Homo sapiens: one gene and its partners. The protein of the gene in region 4 interacts with the protein of the main gene of each other region in a pairwise test. Each region holds a gene or a part of one and is shown on either strand. Other genes may lie near its edges.

Region 1 (3,500 bases), on a different chromosome or scaffold from region 4:
GCCATGGTATTGATCTCCTCCACTCTTCTTATTTCATTTCCCTGAACCCACATCTTCCTCCTTCCCTGACTTTCTTGCCTCTCTCTAAGCCACTTCTACCTTTCTCCCCCTGCCCTTGTTTTTCCCTTTTCGCCTCCTGTAGATTCAGGACATTCTGAAGGTGCTGGTGTCCGACCTTAACCGTTCCAATGGGGTAGCGCTCCCCCCATTGGACAAGTGGAAGGTGAGGCAGTGCCGAGACCCCTCTCTGGCTTGCTCTCTCCAGCTGTGCATGCCCCTGAGGCTTCTCTGGTTTGGGGGATACTTTGCCTCTGGCTTATTTTATGTTGCTGCCATTAACCTTCCGCCTGTTTATGTCCGCTTCTTCACCTGCTTGATTGATTGGGTTTTTATTCTTCCCCCAAATCTTTTATCATCTTGGAGAAGGTGAGACATATCTTAAAGTTTAAAAGTTTAAAGGTAATTTGGGAATAACTTTTAGAGCAGGTGTGTGGGATTTGGGGCTTTTTTTTTTCTTCTTTTTTTTTCAGAGACGGAGTCTCACTGCCCAGGCTGGAGTGCAGTGGCACAATCTTGGCTCACTGCAACCTCTGCCTCCTGGGTTCAAGTGTTTCTCCTGCCTCAGCCTCCTGAGTAGCTGGGATTACAGGTGCCTGCCACCATGTCTGGCTCATTTTTGTATTTTTAGTAGAGATGGGGTTTCACCATGTTGGCCAGGCTGGTCTTGAACTCCTGACCTCAAGTGGTCCACCCACCTTGGCCTCCCAAAGTGCTGGGATTACAGGCGTGAGCCACTGCTCCCAGTCTGGGATTCTGGGATTTGGGCTTTTGAATGCCCAGTGTGGGTACTCTCAGACTAGGAGAGATGAAAAAAAAAAAACACAAAAAAACCAACAGACCTTTAGGTTTTACCCTAAAGGCAAAGATCAGTAAACCACCTAGAAGTTAGTGTTTTTTTTTTTTTTTTAAATTAATTCACTTTGGTTTAAGAGTAGGGAACAAAGGGTTAAAAGAAAATGAGTTCACATTATAGTTGGAAGGATTGAAGCTATTTTTTCAGAGGAACTAACTGTAAAAGTTGTGAGGTTAACCAAACAGATGAGTGACCAAGACGTTCTGCCCCTAATCTCTCCAAATGGACATTTAGCCATATTCATTGGGCTCTTGACAACAAAGGCACTTTGATAAATAAACAGTGGATAAAATAGATGAACAAGGTAGGCTGCACACCGAGGGAGGCAGACTCCTCTGAAGGAGGCAAGAGAGAATTTTGGAACATTCCAAATGCTCAGCTCGGGGGGAGGTTGGTTCCAAATGGACTCCAGGCTGGAGAAGGTGGCATTTGAAGCTGGCTTGAAGATTAAAGGTGGGTAACATTAATCCATATGGGGAGTGGGGGAGGCAGGGGGAGCGGTGAGGCCGTGGCCAGAGTGTGAACTCACAGAGCACCTTTCAGGAACACAGGGAGCCTGGTGGGGGGCAGGGCATGGAGGTACACAGGGCTGGGAGACAACCTCCTCTGGCTGTGATTTGGCATTTCTTCCATCTCTAACTCACCTGGGGGACTCCTTCCTGCCAAGCCAGAGGAGCAGGGCACGAATAGAGCCTGATCCTGTTGGAGATGGGTATGGGGAGAGGGACTGAGACAGAGCAGCCTTGGCTGCTGTTAGAGAGTTGTCCAGTCTCATACCTGTTACCCTCCAGTTGATCAGGTCTGTCCAGGTGCTGTGACTCACCTTGCCAGCTCAGAGGAGACGCTGAGTGGTACGGCTGGGGAGCACAGGCTTAGAGGTGACCTGCAGCCAAAAGCATTTGGCTTTTGCTCTGCCAATGGTCCAGTGGATTAGGGGGTCTTCAGCCTGTTTCCTAATGCTCTGAGATTCTGTGCCAGCCCAGGTCCCTCTATTCTGGAAACAAAGGCCTAGATCCCCGTATTTCCTTCTTGCTGTTTTGTTTTTGTTTTTGAGAAAGAGTCTTGCTCTTTCTCCTGGAGTGCAGTGGTGTGATCTTGGCTCACTGCAACCTCCCCCTCCCGGGTTCAAGTGATTTTCATGCCTCAGCCTCCCAAGTAGCTGGGATTACAGATGTTGCACCATCACGCCCGGCCATTTTTTTTGTATTTTTAATAGAGATGGGGTCTTGCCATGTTGCTCAGGCTGGTTTCGAACTCCTGGCCTCAAGTGATTCACCTGCCTTGGCCTCCCAAAGTGCTGAGATTACATGTGTGAGCCACCATGCCCAGCCCCTTGCTGTTTTTATACCTTCTCTATATCCGTAACTGTTTCCAATGTAGGTTTTGTTTTTTTTTAATTTCTCATTTTTATTACCATGTAAGTTTTCTACTCCAGGAATGCAGGCCTGTGATCGTAGTATCCTGAGCGGAGCTGATAACATTTCCAGAAGTAGGGAATAATGGAGAGAGAAAAAATATCTTAATGGGATGGGACATTTTGAGGAGAGTAGGCTTTTTTAAAAACTCCATCTTGGCTACAAGACTTAAAATAATGAAATAACTTGGTTGCTCACAAAATAATCATGCTATGTGTGTCAGAAAGTCCTCAGAAAAATGCTTTTTCAGCCAAGTGCAGTAGCTCATGCCTGTAATCCCAGCACTTTGGGAGACTGAGGAGGGTGGATCACCTGAGGTCAGGAGTTCGAGAGCAGCCTGGCCAACATGGTGAAACCCCATCTCTACTAAAAATACAAAAATTAGCTGGGCGTGGTAGCGTGCACCTATAATCCCAGCTGCTTGGGAGGCTGAAGCAGGAGAATCTCGAACTCAGGAGGCGGAGGTTGCAGTGAGTGGAGATCTCGCCACTACACTCCAGCCTGGGCGACAGAGTGAGACTCCCATCTCAAAAAAAAAAAAAAAAAAAAATTCCCTTCCTCTGAGCATTCTTGTGTCTAATCCTAGAGATCAGTGGGAACCGAAGATGCCAGGAGGGCCCTAAAGCCTAGCAGGGTCCATTGCTAGGAGTGCCAGCCTTCCCTCAAGGCTAATGCCTGGCCAGCAACTGAACCCTTGCTCTGACCTATTAGATTCAGTTGTAGGCATTGTCAAGGAAACACCAGGTTCCATGGTCACAGTAAACTTGCAAAGATGCAAAGGCAGCTTGGCTCATCTTCAGTTCCACCAGCCTCTGCAGCACTTGCTCTAAGGAGGGAAGCAGATTTGGGTTTTCAGAAGCCAGGGCTGAAGGGTCCAGTGAGCGCGCAGTCCTTTCCCTGGAGAGAGGTGTAGTCACTTCTCCCAGACCCAGCTTCCGTGGCCAGGCCCTGGCTCCCTGGTGTTTTTCTCTTGTCCAGCTTAGCTGGTCAGCCAGCTTTTTCCACTGTCTGCCCATCTGGCTTGTCAGATATTAGAAGATCTCTAGAACCAGAGGCTTGGGCGAAGAGTAAGGTCAGAGCCTGGAGAGAGGCTGGGTGGGGCTCTGATCAAGCAGGTAGGTCCAGTTGGGGGCAAGGGAGAGGCTCCACATGACCCCAAGTTCTGAATCCTA
Region 2 (3,500 bases), about 110 Mb from region 4:
CTCATTCTTTTTTATTTTTCATATTTTCACCTTCTACTAAGTAATTAATGGGCAATTACAATTTGCCAGTATTGCACCAATCATTAGAAAGTTTTTTAAAAGTCCCTGTCTTTCAGGAACTCATTCATCATGGAAAAGAGAGAGTTTGAAATATGGTAACTATTTTATGGAGGAGAAGTACAGGGTGCTTTGGCATCACAAAACAGGGACAATGATTTATGGAGGTCAGAGAAGTCCTTATAGAAGAAATGGTGTTTAAACTGAGATTTGAAGAATTTCAGTCAGGGAAAAGAGCAGAACGGGGAATGAGTTGTCCCAAGAAGGGAACAATATGTTAAAATGTTTGTAAGTGAGGATTGTACATATTGTAGAGACTTAAAGAAGCTCACTGTAGTTAGAGCTTTAAGTATTGAATGGGACATGACAAGAAAAGAGGATATGGAGAGTTCAAAGCCAAATCATGCAGGATCTTGTCAGCCATGTTAAAGAGTTCAGAACTTAGTTTAAGGACAGTGATGAGCCATTGAAGAATTGACTTAGGAATGATATAATCAGATTTTCCTCAAGAAAGGTTGTTTTAAATGTAGAAAATGAATTGGAGGAGCAACAAAATTGGAAGCAGGCAGACCTATTAGGATGTTGTTAAAGTTTTCTAGTTAAAATACTAGAGATGTTTATGGCCTATAATACACTAGGGTAGTGAGAGTGGACACAAGTCAATGGATTTGAGATTTTAAATAAGTAGAATAGATAGGTCTTAGTGATTAATTGTTAATATTGATTGGATAGGTAACTTAGAGGTGATGAGGCATGATCAGATTTTGGGTGTATTTTGAAGTCAGCAGAATTTGCTGAGGGACTAGTGGGCTATGAAAGAGAGCTGATAATGATGACTCCGGTTGTTTTTGCTTCAACATCCTGAAGGATGGAGTTGCCATTTACCAAGACAGAGGCAATTAGGTTTGGGAATAGGGGAGACTGGAGATTAGGCATTCCATTTTGCTTGAGATGTCATTTATAAACAGTTGAATTTCCAATGTCTGTGCATTAGGGGAAAGATCTAGCATGGAGATTTATATTTTGGAATTTAATATAGATGGTATTTAAACAATGTCTCGCTCGGTCACCCAGGCTGGCATGCAGTGTTGTGATCACCACTCACTGCAGCCTTGACTTCTGGGGCTCAATCAATCCTCCCGCCTCAGCCTCCTGAGTAGCTGGGACTACAGGCACATGCCACCACGGCTGGCTAATTTTTTCCATTTTTTGTAGAGACAGAGTTTTGCCATGTTGCCTAGGCTGAAATTTTAAATATTTCACAGGTAAAATCTTTATTAACATTACAGTTGCTTAAAATTTATTTTCATTTTCTTAGGTACCAGGGACTGCAGAGAATGCCCGGTCATGTATTCGAGCTTATTTTTATGATCTACATGAAACTCTGTGTCGTCAAGAAGAAATGGCTCTAAGTGTTGTTGATGCTCATGTTCGTGAAAAATTGATTTGGCTCAGGCAGCAACAAGAAGATATGACTATTTTGTTGTCAGAGGTTTCTGCAGCCTGCCTCCACTGTGAAAAGACTTTGCAGCAGGTAGGTAGTTTAAATGTGGTTAGGGACTTAGTTGTAAGTTTAAGTAGATAATTACCAGAGGTATACATTAGTGTGTTTTATTAATATTTTGTGTCTGCTGTATGCAGTAACTTTGTGCTTAGGAAATGGTCTGCAACCTTGAATTATTTCACTAGTATGGAATTATCAGTGTCGTTCACGTGCCTTTCCCACCATAAGCCATGGGTTCTTGAGGCCTTCTAACTTCTTGCCATTCTTCAGTTATGCCAAATCCTTTTACTCTTCTTTGCCAAGCATATATGTAGTTTTTTTTTTTTTTCTGCTTGGAGTGCATATATCTCTCTTTTCTAATAGTGGAAATCTTCCTTCTCCTTCAAGGTCCAGCTTAAATATTTGCCTTTCTTTGAAGCTTTCTATTTGTTGGTCTTTTTTTGAGTGCCTCTCTACCATGTACTGCCTACGTCTGCTATAATTCAGTGGTTCTTCACTGTTAGAGCAAACGTATGTTTTGTGATGGTTGAGATACCATAAGAAATTTGTTACCCAGTTTGCAGATGACTTACTTTTTTAAATAAATGAGATTCAGTTATTCTAACACAAATGTCAGCTTTACCCATTTGTGTTTTGGATCTGTTTTCATAAGTGTGAGGTATAAGAATAACTATTGCCCTAGGAATTTCAGAAAAGCTGCAGTCTGTGTTATCTTCACTGATATATTGCTAATAATTGTGTTGATTTCAAATCATTGTAGGCTAAGCCTTGTACCATTGTAGAGCTTTTTCTCTTAAATATGTGATTACACTTACATGAGAGTGGCCAGTCTATAGCCTCATCAGTCTTGGGTTATCATTTAGTCCTTACCACACTGAATTGTAACAGTTGATATGTATGCTATTTATTAAGTTGATTTTCAGCTCCAAACCTACTCTTCTATCCTCTATTTTGTGATACTAGGGCTAGAACTCTACAGACCTCATAATTGTGTTGCCAGCTGGGCCCATGTTAGGTACTGTCAAGAGGGGGCATAGTTACTCATGTGAGGAGACCACCCTTCTCGGAGGTTTGAGTTTCAGCTCCATGAGCCACTCCTGCAAGTTTCTAAGTTTTAATAATTCTAACTTCTTCCTTTTATTCCTTTAGCACTGGAAGTGGTAGCTATGTTATTTCATACAATTGCTACCTCCTTAATACCTCAGAGTTCCTTTTAACCTTTTAGCTACCTAGTTAATAACTACACCTAGTTAACAGTTTTTATTTTAAGTTCTTTCTATTCAAGTAATGGTGTGATTTGTGTCTTCCGATTTGACCTTGAATGACACAATATGCCTATGTGTTTTAGATGCTGACCTTGTTCATCTTTGATGCATCTTGTTCATCTTTGTGTCACTAAATTCTTTGCATCTAGATAGAAAGAGCTTAATAAATACATGTTTAACTCATGGCGGATAATGAAGCTACATAGCAAAATCAGAGTGGAGTCATGTCCTAAATCATATTTACTTGAACACTTAAAAGTATTTTCATATTTATTTTATGAAAAAGTTTGTTCATAGTTACTGAAATATTTAAGTATTTTAGAGTTTCTGAAGTGTTGTGCCAAAATGACTGGTATATTAGTCCATTTTCACACTGCTTTACAGATACTACCTGAGACTGGGTAATTTATAAAGGAAAGGGGCTTAATTTACAGGTTTGCATGGCTGGGGAGGCTTCAGGAAAGTTAGACAATCATGGGGGAAGGCGAAGGGGAAGCAAGCACCTTGTTTACAGGACGGCAGGAGAGAAAGAGAGAGCAAAGGAGAGGTGCCACACTTTAAAACCATCAGATGTCATGATTAATCACTATCATGAGAACAGCATGAGGGAAACTGCCCCAATAATCCAATCATGTCCCTCCCTTGACATGTGGGGATTACAATTCGAGATGAGA
Region 3 (4,004 bases), on a different chromosome or scaffold from region 4:
ACCACTAAAAACTTATCCATGTAACCAAAAACCACCTGTACCCCCAAAACTACTGAAATACAAGTTTTAAAAAGATGAAAAAAATTTTTTTTACATAAAATATCTTTCTCCCCAAAAACACATAAAATAAAATAAAAATATGTTTTAAAAAAGAATTGAGGTGGCTCTTAACTAGATAATTAGAATCGCTGGTGGTAATCACTGGCGAAATACGCGTACGTTTCTGTAGGTTTAGGGACCGGGCAAGTCTGGGAAATGCCACCTGGTGGTTCTCAGCCCAGACTACACCTCAGACTCACCTGAAGAGGTGGGGTTTATTAATATCTCAATCAGCATCTCTGGGGGTGGAACTAGGTATTTGTAACGTCTCCCCGTGGGTTTCTAATGCACAGCTAAGTGCCCAGGATAAGTGCCCTAGGGCAATCTAAGTAAAACGTGGCACAGCAAACAATTTTGTAAATGAATATTAACTGGAGACATGTTCTCGAAATCATGTTAAGAGAAAAAACCATGTACAAAAAAGCTCATAGTGCAGTATGATTCCATTTCTGCAATGAGTGTAAGACTAGAAATTAACCGTGGTTATGTGAAATGTGTGGTATATTTGCATTTACTAAATTAAAAAAAATGTTTCTGAGACAGAGCGCCCGGGCTGCAATGCAGTGGTGATCACAGCTCACTGCAGCCTGGGACTCCCGGGCTCAAGCGACCCTCCCGCCTAGGACTCTCAAAGTGCTGGGATTACAGGCACGCGCCACCACGCCCGGCCTGCATTTACAATACTTTTTACGACGAATACTTACGGATGTTATATTAAGAAAATAGTTAACATCTGAGGTGCATTCTTCCAAATAATAACGTAGACAGCACTTACTGGGACCGTCTGGCACCAGGAACCGTCCTGGGGACCGCCAAAGGGCGGCTTAACCTCGCAGCTGCGCAGACGCATGCAGTCCCCGGGCTCTCCTGCCGCGGGACCTCGGCAGACCTAACCCTGAACGCCACCAGCCCGACCTCGCCCCGCCCCTCCCCTCCCTTCCCGGGCCCCGCCCCCGCTTCCTGCCAATTCGCCCCGCCTACCCCGCGTCTCCGCATCCTCTTCCTGGCTTCGCTCCATCAGCCTCGCTTTCGCTGGGCGCTGTCCCTCTCCGCGGCGGTCTGGTTTCCCCGACGTGTTTTGTTTGCGACGCTGTCGTGTAACAGCGCGCTTTACGGCCGCGGGGACGGAGCGAGCCGGCGCCAGGGCCCCTCGGGCCGGGAAGAGGGGAAGGGGAGCGAGGTTGATGCCCGGCGGAGGGGCGAGCGCGGCGTCTGGCCGGCTTCTCACCGCCGCGGAGCAAAGAGGGTCCCGGGAAGCGGCAGGGTCGGCGTCCAGGAGCGGCTTCGGGGGCTCCGGCGGCGGCAGAGGCGGAGCAAGCGGCCCCGGGTCCGGGAGCGGAGGCCCGGGGGGCCCCGCGGGCAGGATGAGCTTGACCCCGAAGGAGCTCTCGAGCCTGCTGAGCATCATATCGGAGGAGGCGGGCGGCGGCAGCACCTTCGAGGGCCTGTCCACCGCCTTCCACCACTACTTCAGCAAGGCCGACCACTTCCGCCTGGGCTCGGTGCTCGTCATGCTGCTCCAGCAGCCCGACCTGCTGCCTAGCGCGGCGCAGCGCCTCACGGCGCTCTACCTGCTCTGGGAGATGTACCGCACCGAGCCGCTGGCCGCCAACCCCTTCGCCGCCAGCTTCGCGCACCTGCTCAACCCCGCGCCGCCCGCCCGCGGCGGCCAGGAACCCGACCGCCCTCCGCTCTCAGGTACCTCCTGAAGCCAGCTGTGCCGTGTGGATAGCGTTAGATTCCGCAGCTTTCCACCTGCGCTGCTGGGAACTCACCTGAAAGGGAAATTAACTATCCCTGTGAAATGATCATCCTCTTTTTCCGCCTCTCTCTGCGTTCCCACGCCCCTCACTCCTCCCCGCCTTAACTCTAAAGAATGGAGAGGTGGTAGCTTAATTGCAAGTTCGTGACACCGAAAATGATTTCTCTATACACCCCATCACATCATACAGCTCAGTGTAGGTCTTGACATGTTTAGTGTCTCAAATACGGTTCGTTCTTCGAAAACCCGTCTGTGGTGTGTGAAGTTAAAACCAATGATAAGACTGGATCTGTCCCCGGTTTTTAGTCTCAAAGGAGTACGTGGAAGTCAGTATTAAGAAGCTGAAGAAGTTGGTGGGCGGAAATACACATGAAACACCTTAAAGACTTTGCAGCCGCCTTTCTTAGCCTGTTAGGGATGGGGGCAGAGGATAGAAAGTCTCAAATTGATGATCTCGCGTTTGGAAACACATGACTTACTGGACATTATGTAAAGTGCATACGTGGTATACATTATGTAAAATGTATTTACTATTGTGTGGCATTGGTGAGATCAAACTAGTAGGTTAGATGCGAGGCTGCATTTTTTTTTGTTTTTAAGCTCAAGCAGGTGATGCTTTATGTGGATTTGCTTTGCGAGAAGACTTGCAGTCAGAAAACAAGAAAAATGGCATGTTGACAACGGGACCTGAAGGATTTAGGAACCAGTGTAGTGGAGGAAGCACACAGAGATAGGAAACAGCTTGATCTTACATTCCTTAACCAGTATAGGTAGGGCCTGCTATACAGTGAGTCAAGGCTAGGCAGTAGATTTTGAAGTAACACCAGGAGTTTGTTTTTATGGTACAGGAGGGCCGCGTTTCTAGTTAGTGTTCCTGCCGGGCATCCCATCAGGATCTTCTGATAGGTGTCCTGTAGTGCCCTTATCTAAGAAGGGCAACCCTTTGTATTGGCCTGAGATGCCTTTAGGGTACAGGTACTTAACCTGCTTCTAAGAAGCTTGTGACTGCCCAGAAAGTGAATGTAACACAGGTTTGTGGTCAAAACTCACCACCTAGGCCTGGCTAGGTGGCTCACGCCTATAATCCCAGCACTTTTGGAGGCCGAAGTGGTGGAGGTTGGGGGGTGGGAATTGCTTGAGGCCAGGAGTTTGAAACCATCCTGGGCAACATAGTAAGATCCTGTCTTTACAAAGCAATAAAAAATTTGCTGGGCATGGGGTGGCTAACACCTGTAGCCCCAGCTGCTCAGGAGTTTGAGGCAGGAGGATCACTTGAGCCTAGGAGTTTGAGGCTGCAGTGAGTTAGGGTGACAGCTTCTAAACACACACACACACACAGACAACCACCACCCTAGGGTGCTTGTATTAGAGGATTGGGACACTGGGATTTAGATCAGAGGGCCCTTTGAATTCTGAAGAACAAGTGAGGCAAAGAAACCGTGACTTATATAATGTCATTCTCATGTACAGTGAATCTAAACCCACACCTAGTCCGTAGACCGCATTATACACACAGATTTGCCATAGGTGGGATGGCAGTCACCAGAGAAGGAATCCATGGATGGATTATATTTAACCATTTTGTGCCTCAGATTCCTCATCTGTAAAATGCAAATAGTAACAATTCCCAGCTGGTAGAGTTGTTACAAAGAATAAAAGTACCTGTGAGTGGGCTGGGCGCGGTGGCTCACGCCTGTAATCCCAGCACTTTGGGAGGCCGAGGCGGGCGGATCACAAGGTCAGGAGATCGAGACCATCTTGGCTAACACGGTGAAACCCCGTCTCTACTAAAAATACAAAAAATTAGCCGGGCGCGGTGGCGGGCGCCTGTAGTCCCAGCTACTTGGGAGGCTGAGGCAGGAGAATGGCGTGAACCTGGGAGGCGGAGCTTGCAGTGAGCCAAGATTGTGCCACTGCAATCCGGCCTGGGCTAAAGAGCGGGACTCCGTCTCAAAAAAAAAAAAAGTACCTGTGAGTGTTACCCACTATTATACCATTATTAAAGTAGGTAGGGATGGTGTGTAGATAACATAGAAGAGAAAATATCAGTGCCTACACTCCACTCCCAGAGCTGCTGATATTGTATGTTTAGGGTAAGACATTTAGTGGGTATGTCTTCAGAATGCTTTTCAGATGACTCTGA
Region 4 (4,275 bases):
CCCACTGGAAAATCAGATCTAATTTATAAAAAACTCAATTTACCCCCAACTTCCCCTGACTGTGAAGTCAGTGTGAGGGGCCTCGATGGCCCAGGCTACAGATCCATGAAGGCCTCAGGGTCTTTCCTAGACCTCTTCTCACATCCAGATGCACAGAGACCATCTTCAACCCCTCCAACTCACCCATCTTGCAAAGAGGGAAACAGGAAAGAGTGGGGAAGGGGCTGCCCCAGGCTCACATACCAGAGACCTCCCAAAAGGAGAAAAGGGCACAGATGCCATAATCATACCAGTCTGCGCTCAATGCTAATCAGCCAGACTAAGTTGAGCTGAGTCACTTTCCTATCGGCTTTAGTTTCCTCACCTGTAAAATGGGACAATAGCACCAAACTGCTGATGCATGGTGCATGCTAGGGTTAGTGACTAAGGGAGAGCCCATGCTTCTGAGCACACCCTCAACTCCCTCCCCGCCCAGACCCACAAATCACCAACATGCCAACTCTGTGTCCAAATGTTGCTTTATCTTTCGGCACGAAAGATCTTCACAGTATCAAAAGTAAAGAATTGGAAAAAAACAAAATAAAAACAAAAACAAAAAAACCAAACACAAAGAGAGCAGTGTTGGGCCAGCAGTACCATCAGCCCTGGCCCTTAGGCCAGCCCAGTCCACGGGCTCTGAGTGTGGAGGCTGCGTAGCACCAGGAAGCGGCTCTGCTGAGGTCAAGGGGCCCCAGCACAGTGTGGCATCCGTTCAGCTTTTGGTTGGTCCAGGATGGTGGGGAGCACAGAGGGTCTTGGACGGGTAGGTGGGGCACACGGAGGGAAAAATTATACGCCTTCAGCTGGCAGTCAGGGCCTCAGGACGCCCTGAAGCAGCTCAGCCTGGGCAGGGCCTGAGAAAGAAAAAAAGAGCAGAATCACAGTAAGCAATGAGCCATGCTCCAGCCTCCCCATGCCACTTGGGTACCCATGGGTCTCTGGTAGCAGAAACAGCTGGCTGCTATTTTTGTTCCCTGGGCTGAAAATGTTGAAGATTCCCTGGATCACCTGTAGCAGAGGATGCAGGTTAACGGGTTGGGAGACAGAGCCCCAGTCCCAGGATCCTGACAAGGTGGGGGACAATCCTTGAGTAGATCCAGCCTTTGGCACTTGCTGTCCATCAGCAGGGGCTGGGAGGCCAGCTGTGCAGCTGTGCTCCTGCCTCTGACTGTAGGTGCACAGCCCGGGGGAGGGTGAAGAGGCTCAAAGGAGAGCGCTTACTAGGGGGTGGGGAGAGGGGCATCTTCTATCTTGGAAAAGAGGCCAGACCAGGTGAAAAAGGGTCAAGAGGAGGCAGTGGAAGGAGACAGTTGCATTTGATTTCTTGAATGACAGAACTGGGCTTGTGGGAGGAAATGCGATCTCTTTTCTCTCAGTAGGGATAACAGATGAAGTGCCTGGGGTTCCTGCTACTCCTGGTTCCCATGGAGGTGGAGAAGAGGCAGGAGGCCACCTTGGATCTGGAAGATACTTCTGGGGCTTGTGGGCATCTCAGTTTGGCAAAGGGGGCTGACTGAGCCCAACCCCTTCAGAGGAGAGGAGGACTAAAGTGAGTGTAAAGAAGACAGTCTGGACTCTGGGGCAGCACAAGGGTCACAGGGAGCCCCAGCTCTGAAGGCTGTCCTGGCTGCAGGCTCTCTGAGCTGCCCCTGGGGAGCTGAGGGTCCAGGAAGTTTGCTGCTTAGGCCCAGAGAGGAGCTGGCCTGGCACTGGAAAGAGGAGAAAGACAGGTGGGGCCATCATGGGGGAAGTGAGTTGTTTGTGAGCTCAGTCTGCCTGCCCCAGCCTTCCAGTCTCCAGGACAGCTGTGTGGTTGCCAGCCGGAAAAGGCCTGACCCCAGGGACACAGCTGAGGGTTGAGATATGAAACTGCAGAGCCACTCAGCCCCCAGCCCAAGGTCTGCCTGCTAGCTGCCCTTCTCTTCATCAATAGGGTTCCAGGCCCAGTGCCTTCTCCAGTTGTCTGTTCCCAGTCCAGATCATCATCTGGTACATCATTGTTTCAGACAAAAGGACCTGTGTGGGTGGCTGGGAGGGGATGCCAATGCCATCTGGCACCCAGGTCTCTTCCTCTAGGAGGCACTGTGGCTACCAATATCCTCATGGAGCTTGCCCTGCTTTGGGTAGCCCCCATCAACTCCTCCATGCCTAAATGACCCACGATGTTCACTCAGGGCTGGCCCCTTCTTATACTGCTTCAGCTGGGAAGTACCTTGGTAGCCTACACTGAGGAGCCCAGGGCAGGAAGTGGGACTTGACACAAGGACTGATAACATCAGGGGTGAGGGCAGCCCCATGGGTCTGATGGCTACCTGGGCACTTTTGAAATCAGCTGGTTAAGACCCTGATGGTTATGCCTTAGGAGATGCCAGTCCAGGAAGGGGACCTTCAGGAGCATGGGCAGCAGGGCCCAGGGAGGAGTAATAGAACAGAGGCCTACAGGTGAGTGGCTGCGGGAGGAGATGGGGCCTTGACCTTTGGAGGCTGTAGCCTGCCATTGCTGTGAAGATGCAGACAGAAGCCAGGGATCCCATGCCCCAAGTCCAACTCCCTGTGCCCCAGAGCACAGAATGGTCTGGTGAGCGTACAGAGAGGGTGGCCAAGCACAGGGAGAGGCAGTGGATGTAACTCTTGGGGTCTCTGTACCTCACTGAGCTGTGCTAGGAGTGGTTTTCTTGAGGCTGAAGTTGGTCCAGTTCACAGCAACTTTCTGACGAGTCTGCTTTGCAGAATCCAAACAGAACCTGTTGGGTTTGGGGGACACATGAGAAGCACAATCAGAGGTTCATTCTTTTGCTCACTGGACTCCTAAGGTACCATGTCCCCATCACTAAGAGACCAGGTTCTCTACAAAACCTCTTTGGCTCTCAGGTGCTAGGGTTTAGCAGGCATAGGAGCTTTGCTGGCTTGGGGGCTTCTGGATTGGGCCCAGGGAACTATGTATGAAGACAGTGAAACTGCCTTGGGATTCCAGTTCCTCCTCATCTGGTGTTTGATTCTCTAGCTCTGCTAGGCTGGCTTCCGTCATTCCCTTAAGTACAGTCGTCCCTCTGAATCTGCTGGGGATTAGTTACCCAGATACCAAACTCTGCAGATGCACAAATCCCTTATATAAAAATGGTGTAGTATTTGCATAAAACCTGCACTGCTCTTCCCATATACTTTTTTTTAAAATTACTATTTTTTTTTTAAATAAGAGATAGGGTCTCACTATATTGCCCAGGCTGGTCTTGAACTCCTGAGCTCAAGTGATCCTCCCACCTTGGCCTTCCAAAGTGCTGGGATTACAGGTGGGAGACACTGTGCTTGGCCTTCCCACATACTTTAAATCATCTCTAGATTACTTAAAATACCTAATACAATGTAAATGCTATGTAGTTATTATATTTTTATTTTTATTTATTTGAGACAGAGTCTTACTCTGTTACCCAGGCTGAAGTGCAATGGCACAATCTTGGCTTACTGCAACCTCTGACTCCCAGGTTCAAGCGATTCTCTTGCCTCAGCTTCCCAAGTAGCTGGGATTACAGGCGCCCGCCACCACGCCCGGCTAATTTTTGTATTTTTATTAGAGACAGGGTTTCACCATGTTGGCCAGGCTGGTCTAGAACTCCTGACCTCAAGTACCTCAAGTGATCCGCCTGCCTTGGCCTCCCAAAGTGCTGAAATTACAGGCATGAGCCACCACCTGTAAAAATACGTATTTTTTTGAGACGGAGTCTCGTTCTGTGGCCCAATCTCAGCTCACTGCAGCCTCCACCTCCCAGGTTCCAGCGATTCTCCTGCCTCAGCCTCCCGAGTAGCTGGGATTATAAGCACGTGCCACCATACCTGCCTTATTTTTCTATTTTTAGTAGAGACGGGGTTTCACCAACTTGGCCAGGCTGGTCTTGAACTCCTGATCTCAGGTGATCCACCCGCCTCGGCCTCCCAAAGTGCTAGGATGAGAAGCATGAGCCACCGCGCTTGGCCAAAAATACTAATTTTTAAAAAATTTGCATTATTTAGTAATGTATTGCTATTTTTTGTGTTTTGTTTTTTTTCCTGAATATTTTTGATTGCAGATATGGAGGGTGACTGTATGCCGTGTTTCTTTCACCCTAATCTTTTGTACTCACTGGCCCCCTTGGCATGAATACCTTTTCATCTTATCTGGCCAACTCATTCTTACTCTTCAGGTTTCAACTTGGTTACCACCTCTCCTGGGAAGGCCTCCTGGCCAGCCCCCACCCCTTC

What was found.
Region 1: the proteins of FAM193B (region 4) and GOLGA2 interact in binary tests that used the Homo sapiens proteins (3 or more experiments, as listed by UniProt).
Region 2: the proteins of FAM193B (region 4) and TRIM23 interact in binary tests that used the Homo sapiens proteins (3 or more experiments, as listed by UniProt).
Region 3: the proteins of FAM193B (region 4) and CNOT11 interact in binary tests that used the Homo sapiens proteins (3 or more experiments, as listed by UniProt).

What each region holds. Positions count from the first base shown.
Region 1 is NC_000009.12:128,269,508-128,273,007, reverse strand, and holds part of GOLGA2 (golgin subfamily A member 2), read left to right. Parts: intron 1-142; coding exon 143-223; intron 224-3,500. UniProt on the Homo sapiens protein: Peripheral membrane component of the cis-Golgi stack that acts as a membrane skeleton that maintains the structure of the Golgi apparatus, and as a vesicle thether that facilitates vesicle fusion to the Golgi membrane.
Region 2 is NC_000005.10:65,607,334-65,610,833, reverse strand, and holds part of TRIM23 (E3 ubiquitin-protein ligase TRIM23), read left to right. Parts: intron 1-1,375; coding exon 1,376-1,591; intron 1,592-3,500.
Region 3 is NC_000002.12:101,251,682-101,255,685, forward strand, and holds the start of CNOT11 (CCR4-NOT transcription complex subunit 11), read left to right. Parts: upstream 1-1,204; 5' UTR 1,205-1,283; coding exon 1,284-1,797; intron 1,798-4,004. UniProt on the Homo sapiens protein: Component of the CCR4-NOT complex which is one of the major cellular mRNA deadenylases and is linked to various cellular processes including bulk mRNA degradation, miRNA-mediated repression, translational repression during translational initiation and general transcription regulation.
Region 4 is NC_000005.10:177,519,289-177,523,563, forward strand, and holds the end of FAM193B (protein FAM193B), read right to left. Parts: intron 3,978-4,275; exon of another isoform or gene 3,871-3,977; intron 2,784-3,870; coding exon 2,687-2,783; 3' UTR 2,686-2,686; intron 894-2,685; 3' UTR 501-893; downstream 1-500.